2 linked regions of the Homo sapiens genome follow. The protein of the gene in region 1 interacts with the protein of each later gene in a biochemical or structural test. Each region holds a gene or a part of one and is shown on either strand. Other genes may lie near its edges.

The links.
Region 2: the proteins of MAGI1 (region 1) and ADRB1 interact in a test that uses a peptide from one of them, tested with the Homo sapiens proteins (2 studies listed by IntAct).

The regions. Positions count from the first base shown.
Region 1 is NC_000003.12:66,035,902-66,042,971, reverse strand, and holds the start of MAGI1 (membrane-associated guanylate kinase, WW and PDZ domain-containing protein 1), read left to right. Parts: upstream 1-4,053; 5' UTR 4,054-4,663; coding exon 4,664-4,976; intron 4,977-7,070. UniProt on the Homo sapiens protein: Plays a role in coupling actin fibers to cell junctions in endothelial cells, via its interaction with AMOTL2 and CDH5. May regulate acid-induced ASIC3 currents by modulating its expression at the cell surface.
Region 2 is NC_000010.11:114,039,996-114,046,877, reverse strand, and holds the start of ADRB1 (beta-1 adrenergic receptor), read right to left. Parts: upstream 3,013-6,882; 5' UTR 2,746-3,012; coding exon 1,312-2,745; 3' UTR 1-1,311. UniProt on the Homo sapiens protein: Beta-adrenergic receptors mediate the catecholamine-induced activation of adenylate cyclase through the action of G proteins. This receptor binds epinephrine and norepinephrine with approximately equal affinity.

The sequences.
Region 1 (7,070 bases):
TCTGGAGTGAAACACTGTATCCTTTAGCTTAAAGTGAAGAGACAGAAAGGAGGGGGACTTAATTACTGTGTATACACTATGTAGCAGATTCAAGAGTCCAGAGCATGCTGTTACCCAAATATGCTAAATGGCCACATCCTATCCTCTCAGACTACAGTGTTCTGAGCATGGGTTTTGGGTCATGCCTCCGGGTTCACTTCCTGGTTTTGTTACTTGTAAGCTCTGGGGCAAGTTTCTTCACTTTCTTAGCTTCATTTTCCTCAGTTATAAAATCAAGGTCATTCCTGATAGTTCCTACCTTACACAACTGTGGTGATTGCATAAAATAACTCACATCAGCTGGGCGCGATGGCTCACGCCTGTAATCCCAACACTTTGGGAGGCCGAGGTAGGTGGATCACCTGAGGTCAGGAGTTTGAGACCAGCCTGGCCAACATGGCAAAACCCTGTCTCTACTAAAAAAGCAAAAATTAGCTGGGCATGGTGGTGTACTCCTGCAATCCCAGCTACTTGGGAGGTTGAGGCGTGAGAATCACTTAAACCCAGGAGGCTGAGGTTGCAGTGTGCCGAGACGGCACCACTGCACTCCAGCCTGGATGACAGAGTGAGAGTTTGTCTCAAAACAAACAAACAAACAAACAAACAAAAACCAAACAAAAAAACCCCCAACTCACATCACTACGCTGACATATACAGTAAGCTTGAAAGTTAGGTATTTTATAGCATTATTTCTCCCAACAGAATGTATTGCCAAATTCATAGCTAAAGTGAGACAAGTCAGAATACTAGGATCTTAGATCTATTCAGGAAAAATCTACTTCACAATGACATAACTATAAGCTCTTTTCATTGAAAGTAATGGCAAAACCTGCAATTACTCTTGCACCAACCTAATATAAATACCCCTGTTTTGGCAACCAAATCTAAACTGGCTTTGGATCAAAGGTCACATATTACACAATTTCATGTCATACTTCATCCATTTATTCAACAATTTCATGTCACACTTCATCAATTCACTCAACAACTGTGTATGGTGCACACTCCACACAAGGCATGGTTCATGGTTTTTGGTATTGAGGTTTCAAAGGTTGGATAGGAGAGAGATGATCTCTGCCTTGAACTTCTCCAGTCTGGGACACAGGAACTAGACCAGGTGAAACACCAGCCGGGAAGATGCAGAGGGAGCATCCTGGAAACTGGCAGCCTTGGCTACTTTGAAGGTTCAAATTATTTTTCCTTTTCCTGAATTAGAATAATGTCTATTCTCTCCATATTGCCCTCTGTGCCCACAGGTACTACTCCTTCTTTTGGGGCTTTTCCACATCTAAAACCTGACGTATGCTAAATTCCAAGTTCTTTCCTTTCTCAGCTGCTGTGGTGACACCTGGAATCCTGGCAAGAGGGGGATGTTGTTGCATTGGGAGGAATCACAAAACGCCTGGTCTTGTCCAGCCCTTGGACTCCCCCAGGCAGAGGTGAGAGTTGAGTGGAGAGGTAGGGGACTCCTAATTCAAGGTTGGTTGTGGGTATTCTTAGCAAACAATTACACTTTACTAGAATATGAAGTGGCAAAGTGGGGAAACACACAAGGCTAAGCTTACTAAGCTTACTAATGATTTGCAGGGGAATCTGTGACTCCCCACTAACATGGAAAGTAAAAATGTACATTTTTGTGGAAAGAGTCATTTGACAAATATTTTAGCATTTGCTAGTACGAGGCACCATTCTAGGAACTGGGAATAATACATCAGTAAACCAAACTGTCAAAGTGTCCTGACCTCCTTGAGTTTTTATTTTACACAGAGATGTGGATCACAGGTTTATTTGACAAAAAGGTCTGGGACCCAAACAATGCTTTGGAATCAAGATACTAAACCTATGGTGCTCAGCGTTGTGTACCAACAACACATAAGGGGAACCTTAAAAGTTCAAATGACTTAGCCCTTCCTTGACATTCTGATTGGCTGGATCTGTGCTCGGGTTTGATAATTTATGTTTTGAAGTGCTGTTCATATTGACCTAGATTGCTTCTGAAAAAAAGCTGGAGACAAAGTTCCTCTCACCAAGCAAAGCCATGGAAAATTGGTCACCTCCTTTTTTCAGAAACACAACAATGCAATGGGATTTTCAGTTCTGGATATCCCAAGAGAGAAGCATCAACATCCCTCCTTACTTTTATTAGCTTAGAATAGCACCCTACAATGCTTTAAAAGGATGTTTAAACGTATGCCTAAACCAGGTATGGTGGCTCACATCTATAACCCCAGCACTTTGGGAAGCTGAGTCAGGAGGTTGGCTTGAGCCCAGGAGTTTGAGACCAGCCTGGGCAATCAACATAGGGAGACCCCCCCATGTCTACAAAAAATCAAAAAAATAAAACTAGCTGGGCATGGTGGCATGTGCCTATAATTCCAGATACTCAGGAGGCTGAGGTGGTAGGATTGCTTGAGTCCAGAAGTTCGAGGTTACAATCAGCTAGTCGAGCTACTGCACTCCAGCTTGGGGACAAAGCAAGACCACGTTTCTAAAAACACCACCACCACCATCAAAAAACAAACACACAAAGTATGCCCATATTTTCTAAGTTCTAGAAAGGAGAGGATAAATTATCATACTTACTAACTTGAATCCCCAAATGATTTCCCAATTTTCTTCCCAAATAGTAATACTACTATTAAGAATATAATGAGTTTTTATTATTTGCCACTTTATAAGTGTTTTCCCACGTAATACTTCCAAGAACCCTGTGAGGTCTTGTTCTACTTATTTGATCAGCGAGAAACGGAGGCGCGGAGGTCACCAAGCTTGCTCAAGGTCACACAAGGGTGGACCCCTGAGCCTACCTCTCAACCTCGACTGCTGTGTCCATCCTTTCTTCATCGTTTCAACGTACCCCCCTCATTTCTTGGAATCTCTCCTGTGACCAAAGATGAACAAAATTATACATCACTAAAGAGGAAAACAAACTGCTGGGGAGACTACTCAGCAGCCTGATTTGAGGAGTATTTGGGAAGGGCAGCCTTCCTGTGGTATGGGAGTCTTTCTGTCCGCCACCTCGCCGGGACAGAAGTCACTCCATCCGCACCCCCGGGCGACCTCCGGAGGCCGCAGCTACCCCCGGGCTGCGAATTCCGAGTTCTCTCACGCCCCCGCGGGCGCCAGGACGCAGGGCATGTCCGCGCCCGGCGGGGATCCTTATCTCCTGGCCCCGGAGTAGGTCCGCAGGCTTCTCGGCCCTGCCAGGAACTTGAGGCCGGGGCAGATGATTGACTGGGTCCAGCAGTCTCTGCTGGCAGGGCAGTTGAAAAGCTAGAGGGATCTCTTTTTTGGTTGAATACCTGAACCCACACTAGCACCATGGCTTCTCTCTCTTGCCTGTAGTTTCCCGTGTCCTAAAAAGTTGGTCCCAAAGTTTAAGGATGCGGGTGTGTGTAAGAGCGCGTGTGACCCGCACAGGGATCCCAGTTGGGGAACCGGAGGATCCCACCGTCCCCCTCCCCCGGGTCGCAGAGACCCTGGCAGACCCCGCGCCAGGACCCGAACCCGCAAGCGCAGGGCAGGCAGGGAGGCGGCGAGCGCCCCGGGGCGGGTCTCGGGGGTTTCAGTGGGACCTGCGGCAAGGGGGGCGGCGAACCAGCCGGGCTGGGTGACCGACAGCCTGGCCAGCCACTGGCCGAGGGCGGTTAGGAGGCTTAGGGCCGGCGCGAGTGCGTGCGCGTGTGCGTGAGTGTGAGCGCCAGGGTGAGTGTGGCAGCCTCCCCAACCCCCACCTGTTTGAAATGGTTTTCAAATGCCAAAGCCAGATTGCCCGGGTTTCAAAAGTTGCAAACAGTTGGAGTAAAACACGTGTGCGGCCCTCCAGCCCCAAAGGAATCCGCGGAGTCCAGGGCACTGAAAGAAAAGGAGAGAGGATAGGGGTTCAGGAAGGGTTGGGGGGGAGTTGCCTTCTCCCGGCAGGTCGGTTTTAGGACCCATCGGGAAGCACGTTGGAATCTCTCCCTTCGGGGAGGAGGGGAGGGGTGGGCCGGCCGGCTGGCGGCCGCGGGGCGCATGCGCGCGCGTCTCCTGTCGCCGGCCGCTGCGCTCCGCGGCGCGGAATAGAATGAACTGTAACAAAACAAGCCGAGCCTTTGTATCTGCTTAAAGGGGCCGCGAGCACTTACCTCCCGCCCTGCTCCCCGCCGCCCCGCCACCGCGTCTTCAGGGCTCCCGGCAACTGGCTGGAAGGGCTTCCCTCACCCTCAGTAACAGCCTGCCAGCGAGGAGAGGCGAGCCGGGCGGGAGGCAAAGAGGAGGCACCGCATTTGTAAAAGGCAAGAGAGAAAGGAAGGAAGGAAAAAAAAATAACCCGAGCGGCGCAGAGTGGACTCTGGTCCGGGAGAGCACGGGCGGGCGCCGGAACGTGGACCCAGAGGCACCGGAATGCAAACAAAGCTCGCGGGCGCCTGTGCGGGGCTCGCGGGGAAGCCCAGAAAGTTTGTTTTATGATGGCTTGAGTGCGCGAGCGTGTGCAGGGGAGCGAGGCTGCCAAGTTTCTCTCTCCTGTTTTGTGATTTGGGGAGAGATGTTTCTCCCATGAACAAGCGGAGGCTTGGGGGCTCGTGCTGTGGGGGGCACCTGTCTCTCGTTTTATTTTTTTGGAGGAGGGGTGTAACTCATCATGTCCAAAGTGATCCAGAAGAAGAACCACTGGACTAGCAGGGTTCACGAATGCACCGTGAAGCGGGGACCCCAGGGCGAGCTGGGGGTGACGGTGCTGGGAGGCGCGGAGCACGGGGAGTTTCCGTACGTCGGAGCGGTGGCGGCGGTCGAGGCAGCGGGGCTTCCCGGCGGCGGCGAGGGCCCGAGGCTGGGCGAAGGGGAGCTGCTTCTGGAGGTGCAGGGGGTCCGGGTGTCCGGCTTGCCCCGCTATGACGTGCTGGGGGTCATCGACAGCTGCAAGGAGGCCGTCACCTTCAAGGCCGTCAGACAAGGTAAGGCAGGGCGCGCCTTTGGGGGGCGCCCCGAGAAAAGGAGGGTGGTCTGTGGGCTGCCCCTTATTCTCGATTTCCTGCTTCCCTCCTCGGAGCGCAGTGAAGAGAAGTTGAGGCCGTGCGCCCTGTGGTGGCGGTGAAATACACAAAGTTGTTGCGAGGTTGAGGGTTGTTTGCCCACCTGCGTTTCGAAGAGGGGGCTGGGTTTGCGCAAGGTAGCGGGGGGACGTTTCTCAGGCCTGGCTGGCCAACCTGTTATCTCCGCCACTAAGTGCAGCGCAGTCTCGCCTGCACCCGAGAGAGAGTTGGGGAACTGAGTCAGGGGCATGGTGGACGCTGTCCTGGCTCCTTGGGGGAGGGATGCAGCTGGCGTTCTTTGGCCACGAGTCAGTTTCCATACCTGCTGAGTGGGTATACAGAAAGAGAGGGTCTGTAGTTTATTGGACCTCCCCCATCAGAAAATCTGCTTCACCCCGCGACCCCTCCAGGTGAGCTAGGACACCACTGCCTGGCGGTTCCTGAGCCCGCCGCCAGAAGAGCCTGCATTCACCCCTCAGCCGGATGACGCATGTGTCTCCACCGTGTGGCTCAGCCATACACTTGGGAGGGGGAGAGGGGGAAGGGGTGCTTGCTTTTAGCTCGAATCGGGTCCAAGTTTACCCTCCCACCACCACCATCATCGTCATTATTGATGATGAAAATGAAGCTACTATTCATTGTTGGTTTACTACATGCCCGGCTCTGTGTAAAATACTTTACTTGCACTATCTCACTCCGATTCACAACAGTTCTAAGAACGAGTTGTTCTTATTTATATACCCCAAATTAGAGATAAGGAAACTGGGATTGATACTGGTTAAGTGACTTGCTCAAGGTCACACAGTTGCCAAAAGCGAGGGTTTGAGCCCTTGCTGCAGAGCCTTAAGTATGGAGGAGGAAGGAGTGGGGGGATGACCCTACCGCACTGAAGGGGCTGATTCCTGAGGAGGGAGTGGAAGCAAATTCCTCTCTCAGAAATCTGTAGAGGCCTTTTAAAAGATGCATTTGCTGGCTGCTGGTGATGTAGGTCCCTTACATCTCACTTTGGTACAGACAAGGGGCTGTCCTCATGTCAACCCAATGGAGACCAGCTGAGGCCCTTAAAGGGCTCCCTTGTGCAAGCAAGTGCCATGACGCAGGTTCTCCCCAGTGAAAGCACCGAAGGAAGTCGTGAAGTTGAACATGGTGAAAAGTTCCCATGTGTTTCCATAAGGACAGGCAGCAGCTGGAGGAATGTGTCAAAGGAAGGGCTGGGCCTAGCTGGTCCTCTCTTGGAAACAGGCGTGCTCCAGATGAAATGGAGGAGGGGGCGGCCGACTCGCCTGGCCTTTTAGCAGCTTTGGGAGCTGAGGAGCTGACACTTAGCTATGGAAAGCTCCTTGTATTTATGACTTCATTCTCCACTGGGATACCTCCTCCAAGAAGCCCTCCAGAATCCTGCTAGGATGCACAAATTCTTCCTCCTTTGGGCTCCTTTAATGTCTACTTTGTGGCTTTTTTACTTACTCTGAACTCTGAGTTAGGTCCTCATTTCCATACAAGGTAGTGAGCTCATTAAAGGGAGAGATTGTGCCTCATTCCTGGCATACCTCTCCAGGTTTTGCTTGAGGTTCAAAACCTTTCCTGGCCTGACAATGCGTCTTCCTCACACTGGCTTTCCTGTGGGTATTACATAAGCTAACACGTGGAAAGTGCACCCAACAGTGCCTGTACATAGTAAGTGCTCCATAAAGATTAGCTATTTATGTTTGAATTGATTTTAGCAGCTATTTATTTCTGAAACTAGTTTTTAGTGTCAGGAACCTGGATAATTATGACTTGATAGGGCTGTAGAGAAAATACTGTGTGAAGGCATAGGATGGGAGCAGCTGCAGGTCTCAGTTCAGGACCATTTTGGAGAAAGGGTGGAGGAAGGACAGGCAAGGGTACCTGCCCAACTAGGGGGATGCCTCGCAGTGTCTAACGGGTCCTGAATAGGGGCTGGCTTGCAGTGTTTGCAGTGTGCAAGATGCTGCATGGGCTTGTGTCTCTTCCTTCCACTAGTTGCCAAATTTC
Region 2 (6,882 bases), on another chromosome or scaffold:
TGGACCAATTCCTCACACAGTAGTTAGTTGCACCAGAGTATAAATACTTGGTAAAACACACAAGAGGAAGTAGAATTTACACACAAGTGCTAACTTTCACCAGCAAATTCACGTGGGCACTTGGACATAAAAAAAAATAAAAAATCCTTAAGATAATTATATTTATAATATGGATACAGTTACAGTACCATGATAAAGGAGTATAAAAAGGTATTTTCCCAATGAATCATTAGCTCAATAACATACTAGACAACAGAAGTAGAGTTTGAATTTTATTTAAGATCTGCCCAGCCCCTCTCCCTTTAAAAAATATTTAATTTCTTTTTGTGCAAGTAACATCTTCTGTGGATTTTGTAATTCCTAACACTGTGCAAAAATGGCATTTTGAACCACTCCTTTTTTTTGTTTTTGTTTTTATCCACATGTGCAGTAATCTGAACTGTTTCTCTCTCTCGCTCTCTTTTAATGTCCTGTCTTCAATTGACAGAGTCACATGTCACAGAGAGAGGCTCTGCGCCTGGTCCTTCCAACTAATATTGATACATAAATAAGCTGTTTAATATAAACAAGTCTTTCTATCTGCTGTGCAAATGCACAGTGTGAGGTAGAAATCCCTCAGCCTGACCACCCAGGCGCGCGGGGGACAGCGGGTTTGCCCTACACAAGGAAAGCAAGGTGGGGCTTGTTCCAAGAAGAGCTTAACATTTCTTGAAACGTGATTTTTTTTTATTTTGCCTCCATCCTTTCTCTTTGCTTTCATAACAGCAGAAATCATTACTTAGAAATTAAAATGAAATTTCTCTGGAAAGCAAAAGGAAATATGTCTTGACAAACTGTCATTCTCCTCTCTCTGGCTGGTAGTGTGTTCCTGTTCCCGGGAAAGGGATGGGAGCCACGATGATCGATTTTAATCCCCTCCTAATGCTTCTCCCTTCCCCTAACCCACCCATCTTCCACTCCGGTCCTCTCAGAGAGTGTCAAAAACCACCTGGTGGGGGAAAAAAATCTAAAGATGCATCACACGCACACACAAAAGAAGGCCGGACCACAAACAGAAAAAAAAAAAAAAAAAAAAAAGAAGAAGAAAGAAAAGAAAAGAAAAAAAAAACAACAAGGAACATCAGCAAGCCACTCTCCCATCCCTTCCCAAACTTTCCTTTTTGTGCAACGGTCCGTGGCTTTTCTCTTTGCCTCGGATGATTCAGACGAGGATTGTGGGCTTCGAGTTCACCTGCTATCGGTCTTAAGTAAACACAGATCTCCTCGTTCCCCTGGGAAGCCGTGCCCGGAGTCCGCGCCCCGCGCCGGGCCCTACACCTTGGATTCCGAGGCGAAGCCGGGGCGGCACGGCTCGTCCAGGCTCGAGTCGCTGTCCGCCGCCGCCCCGCCGTTGCAGCCGGCCCAGGGCTCCAGCAGGCGCGCGGGCGGCGTGGCCCCGACGACATCGTCGTCGTCGTCGTCCGAGGCGGCCCCGGGCGATGGCGGGGGTCCGGGCCGGGCCAGACAGCCCGAGGCGCGCGGCCGGTCTCCGTGGGTCGCGTGGCGCCGGCGGGCAGCCCTGCGCGCGCAGCAGAGCAGTCCCTGGAAGGCCTTGCGGAAGTCGGGGCTGCGGCAGTAGATGATGGGGTTGAAGGCCGAGTTGGCGTAGCCCAGCCAGTTGAAGAAGACGAAGAGGCGGTCGGGCACCAGCTCGCGGTGGAAGGCCTTCACCACGTTGGCCAGGAAGAAGGGCAGCCAGCAGAGCGTGAAGACGCCCATGATGATGCCCAGCGTCTTGAGCGCCTTCTGCTCGCGCAGGGCCACGAGGCGCGAGGGCCGCCGCTTACCCGCACGCCCGTTGGCCAGCGGGGCGGTGGCGGCGGCGGCGGCGGGGCGCGGGGGTCCGGGCGGCGGCGCGGGCGCGGGGACGGGCGAGGGCGAGGGCGAGGGCGGCCGCGCTGGGCCGCCGAGGAAACGGCGCTCGCAGCTGTCGATCTTCTTCACCTGCTTCTGGGCCTCGCGGAACACCCGCAGGTACACGAAGGCCATGATGCACAGGGGCACGTAGAAGGAGACTACGGACGAGGCGATGGCGTAGGCCCGGTTGGTGACGAAGTCGCAGCACTTGGGGTCGTTGTAGCAGCGGCGCGCCTCGTCGCTCTCCGCCCGCCACCAGTGCATGAGGATGGGCAGGAAGGACACCAGGGCCGAGATGGCCCACACGGTGCACACGAGGCCCCGCGCCCGCGCGCGCGTCAGCAGGCTCTGGTAGCGGAAGGGCGAGGTGATGGCGAGGTAGCGGTCCAGGGCAATGACACACAGGGTCTCGATGCTGGCCGTCACGCACAGCACGTCCACTGAGGTCCACAGCTCGCAGAAGAAGGAGCCGTACTCCCAGCGGCCCCACACCACGATGGTGGCCCCGAACGGCACCACCAGCAGCCCCATGACCAGGTCGGCGCTGGCCAGGGACATGATGAAGAGGTTGGTGAGCGTCTGCAGCCGCGGCGTCTTGGCGATGGCCACGATCACCAGCACATTGCCCGCCACGATGAGCAGCACGATGAGCGCCATCAGCAGACCCATGCCCGCTGTCCACTGCTGAGACAGCGGCTCGGGGCTTTCGCTGGCGGGAGGCAGCAACGAGGCGGGCGGCGACGCGGGCACCAGCAGCCGCGCCGCGGTGGCCGCGCCGTCGGGGAGCGGTGCGGCCGACGACAGGTTACCGGGCTCGGAGGCGCCCAGGACGAGCACCCCCGCGCCCATGCCGAGCTGCGGAGGCCGGGGGCGGGGGGTGTGGCAGGGCTGGGCCGTGGTTGGGGAACACCCCAGAAGCCCGGGCGGCGTGGTGCGCAGAGGGAGGTCGCGGCCGGGTCAGGGCAGCCGCGGCGCGGGGCCGGAGGCATGGGCGCCGGGCGCCTTTCCCGCAGGAGCCGAGCGCTGTCGCTGCCGCTGCCGCCGCCGCCGCCGCCGCCGCTGCTGCTGGAGCCGCTGCCGCTGCTGGAAGAGCCGCCGGGACTTCAGCATGTTTCTGAGCGCGCCGGGCCCGCAGCTCCGGCACCCAGCACCCACCCCACCCCGCTCCCACTCCCCAAGCCAACCCCCGGGGCCTCGCGTCAGGCTCCTGCAGCCAATCCGGGCAAAGGCACGCCCCCGTCTGGTCTGCACCCCCACCTCCAACTCCCCGCACCCCCCTCCCGTTGGCAATTGAGCGGCTCCTGAGAGTCCCGAGCTGATCGCGTAGCTAGTGCCTCCCGTGCGCCCGCGGGTTCCTGCGGACGCACCCCTTCCTGCGCCCGCTGGTTCCTGGTCCCTGTTCCCCCGCGCCCCCTTCCGCGCCTGGCTCCCCCCGGGGCCCCGTCCCCTCCCTCAGCCCCCACTCGCTCCCGCACCCACTCCTGCGCCCCGTTTGCCTCCCGCACCCGCTCCTGCGCCCCGTTTGCCTCCCGCACCCGCTCCTGCGCCCCGTTTGCCTCCAGCACTCGGCTCCCTCCTGCGCCCCCGCTCCCCCCGCATCCCCTCGACCTGCAGTTCCGGGGTTCTCTGCGGAACAGAGCGCTAGCTCCCTTGAGCGGGGAGGGGACCTTGGTGTTCAGGAAGCGCCAGAGCGCCTGGGACAGCTTGTCCGCCAGGCTTGGAGGAGTTTGCCCTGCGAGCTTGGTTGTGATGTGGGGCAGCCTAGCAGGGTGTGTGTAAAACCCTTCCCCCGTCAAGACGGGACCCAGCCAGCATGCGTCGTGACAGCTTGGGGGATTGGAGGTGGGTGTTAGTGGTTAGAAGAAACTTCCCAGCAGAGCGGGTTGCTGGAGCCAAGCGCGCATCTGTCAAGAATGCTCTCTGGGCGCTGTTCTTGCAAGGATCCTCTGTTGAACCTCGAGTGCAGTAGATGTGGAAAGGAAGCGAAGGTTTGTGCATCTAACAGCTAACGCTGAGGGCCCTTTGGAATCGTACACACTCCTCAGTCCTAGCTAATGAACGTGTGAGCATGATGCAAAAATGTATGCTCATGATATGAAAGGAGAGGCTTAGGGAGACAGAAACGTTGAGATACAGAGTAAACGATACCACCGCGAGGGGGAAAAAACGCGTTTAATTACATTTTAGACTTTTCAATGATAACACCTGTATTTTGTGTTTTATTACTCATGTGATTTTATAATTTGAGCTGGGTCAATACAAACAAAAAGGTACTGTCAGTTTATGCTGACGTAATGAACTGCGATTTCAGATTCCTTGGTCTGCGTGCTTGTTTTCTCCTTTGCCCAAGTTCCCAGATTCTCAAAACTCTGAGATTAGTTTTGAAGGGATGAGACAAGAAAACATATAAATACTCCAGAGGATTAAAATCCAAAAGCATTTAAAGTTGTATCTGTGGTTTTTTTTTTTTTTTTTTTTGAGTTGGCAAATGAATTGCTTTGAAATTAGTGAGTTGTTAACCTGGCAAAAAGGATTATACTGGGGGTGAGGGGACAAGAAAGCCATGAATATGCAATATGGCAGGACTGCAAGCCCCTTCTCTAATTTGGCTCCTGTAGTGTCCTCAGCTCAGGCCTGAAATAAAAAAAAAAATAAAAAAATTAAAAAAATCTCTAATTGAGTCCTTGAGGAGTAAACAGCTTCTAATTGTTTATGTAAGGGTGCATGAAAATGTTATATAATGCTCACAGGTCCTTCTAGCATTGGAATAAGAACAGCGCCCGTAACGAACATCATGTTCGTTGATGGTCATCAATATGACCAAGCTCATATCCTTACCTTGCAAGGAGAGACCGACTTCCACAGCTGTCCAGGTCAAAAGCAAAAAGTAATGTTTTTCAAGTTTATATAAAATCAAGCAGTTTTAACCACTTTCTCTTACATAAATGCAAACATATGAATTTGCTTTAGGCCCAAACCTCAGCATCAGTATGTTAAAACTGGGGAGTGATTTGTTTATTCACCCCCTGCCCATGATTTATCAGCTGATTTTCCAACTTGGGGAGGTTGAGGAGGAGTGGCCAGGAAACAAGAGGCGTTAGAAAGGGGAGGAAGGAGACTACACCCCAAGTTATCCAAGTCACTGAAAGCCTGAGACTCCTGGCTTCTTTCTTTTTATTTTTTTGAGACAGAGTTTCACTTTTGTTGCCCAGGCTGGAGTTCAGTGGCGTGATCTTGGCCCACTGCAACCTCTGCCTCCCGGGTTCAAGTGATTCTCCTGCCTCAGCCTGTCAAGTAGCTGGGATTACAGGCGTGTGCCGCCACACACGGCTAATTTTGTATTTTTAGTGGAGATGGCGTTTTACCATGTTGGTCAGGCTGGTCTCGAACTCCTGACCTCAGGTGATCCACCCACCTTGGCCTCCCAAAGTGCTGGGATTAGAGGCATGAGCCACTGTCCCCGGCCTCCTGGCTTCCTTCTGGACCCACAAGGGGCAGTCTCAAAATAGCCAAGGGATTGGAAGAAGTTGAAATTGACGCTGCCCAGGAAAGGAGTTCTGAGTGCTGAGCTGCAGGGTGAGGCATAGGGAATGTGGGGAAGAGGCTTTTCCTTGCCATCTTTCTGTCAAGTGGTGTTACCGGAATAGAGTGTGTCAACCTTAAATGCCCCCGAAGGGTGGAAGGCATTGCTTTTCTGTGTGCGATAAGGCCAGAACTTGGTCGTAGAGGTTCAGGGCAGAAGCCAGATTGCCAGTAACTTTGCCGTATCATCATTATATATATAAACACATCGTGACATTGGAATTGTTGGAAAACTTTCCTGAAACTTTTTTTCTCTGCTCATTCAGAGATACATCAAGTTTCTCCGAATTTCTGTATAATACATTAAATTATAAACCCTCGAAACCAGAAGGTTATTCTAGCAGGAGTACCAGTACAGGGATCTCAGGAATTCTGGGGGATTTCCTTCAATTTTACTGACAGAAGAGTTTGGAATAGTACATGTTCAACTAGAGTTGGTTGTCTAATAAAAATAAAATGTTCTCAGAACTCCTTTAATTCCTACATTTTATGATTGGTGTTTTTTTTTTTTAACTTTTTTTTTAGCCTAACACTTTTTATTCTTAGGTAAGGATACAAGATCAAGAAGAAAAGGTTCAACGTATCAACTTTTACAGGTATCGGATATTGTAAGTTAAATAAAACTCCTTCATTTCTTCATTCTTCACTTGGCAACTGTTAAAGAGAGTCAGTTCTAAAAACCCATATATTTCACAATGCTTTGGAAAATGACAGAAAGCTCCAACAATGAGGGCTGATCAGCACACTTGAGAGGTCGTGCACTTCTTCCACAGAGTTCCTATCTCAACTTCTTCCTTTCCCATCCCCCCACCTTCACCCCACACCGGGACTTGCCATGGGTTCTATTTGATCTCCCTGTCTCTGGTCCTCCCTGCTCCATTTAATCTGGCATATCATAACCAAAGGAGTATTTCCAAAATGCTGCTTTGACCAAGATGCTTTTCTGTTCAGCAACCTTACCTCTTCAATTTAACATTCACAGTTCTCCCCGGTCCAATTCTAAATGGCCTTTCCAGCCCTATTTCATATTAGAACTCTCCTTATCACCATAACTTGCATTTCTGTATTCTTTTTCCTTTTGGGGATCCATACTCCTTCCTTTTGTACATCTATACTTTCTCACTGGGTTCCCTCCACCAAAACCTCCTCCTGCTTCCCAGCGAATTCAGCCTTGGAGATGTGGCTGGACTCTTTATCTTCTCTGCCCACTGCTTCTGAAAATGATCTCTCCTTCCTCTGACCTATAGTAGTGACTCTGCCAATTTCATTTCAGGTGGCAATTTACAATAGGTTGCCTTTTGATACTTCTTATGTTGTTATTTAATTTTTATATTTTCCCCTTTTCTTCTCTTATAGATTGTAAGCTCACTGAGAGCCAGAATTGTCTCATACATTTTTATATCT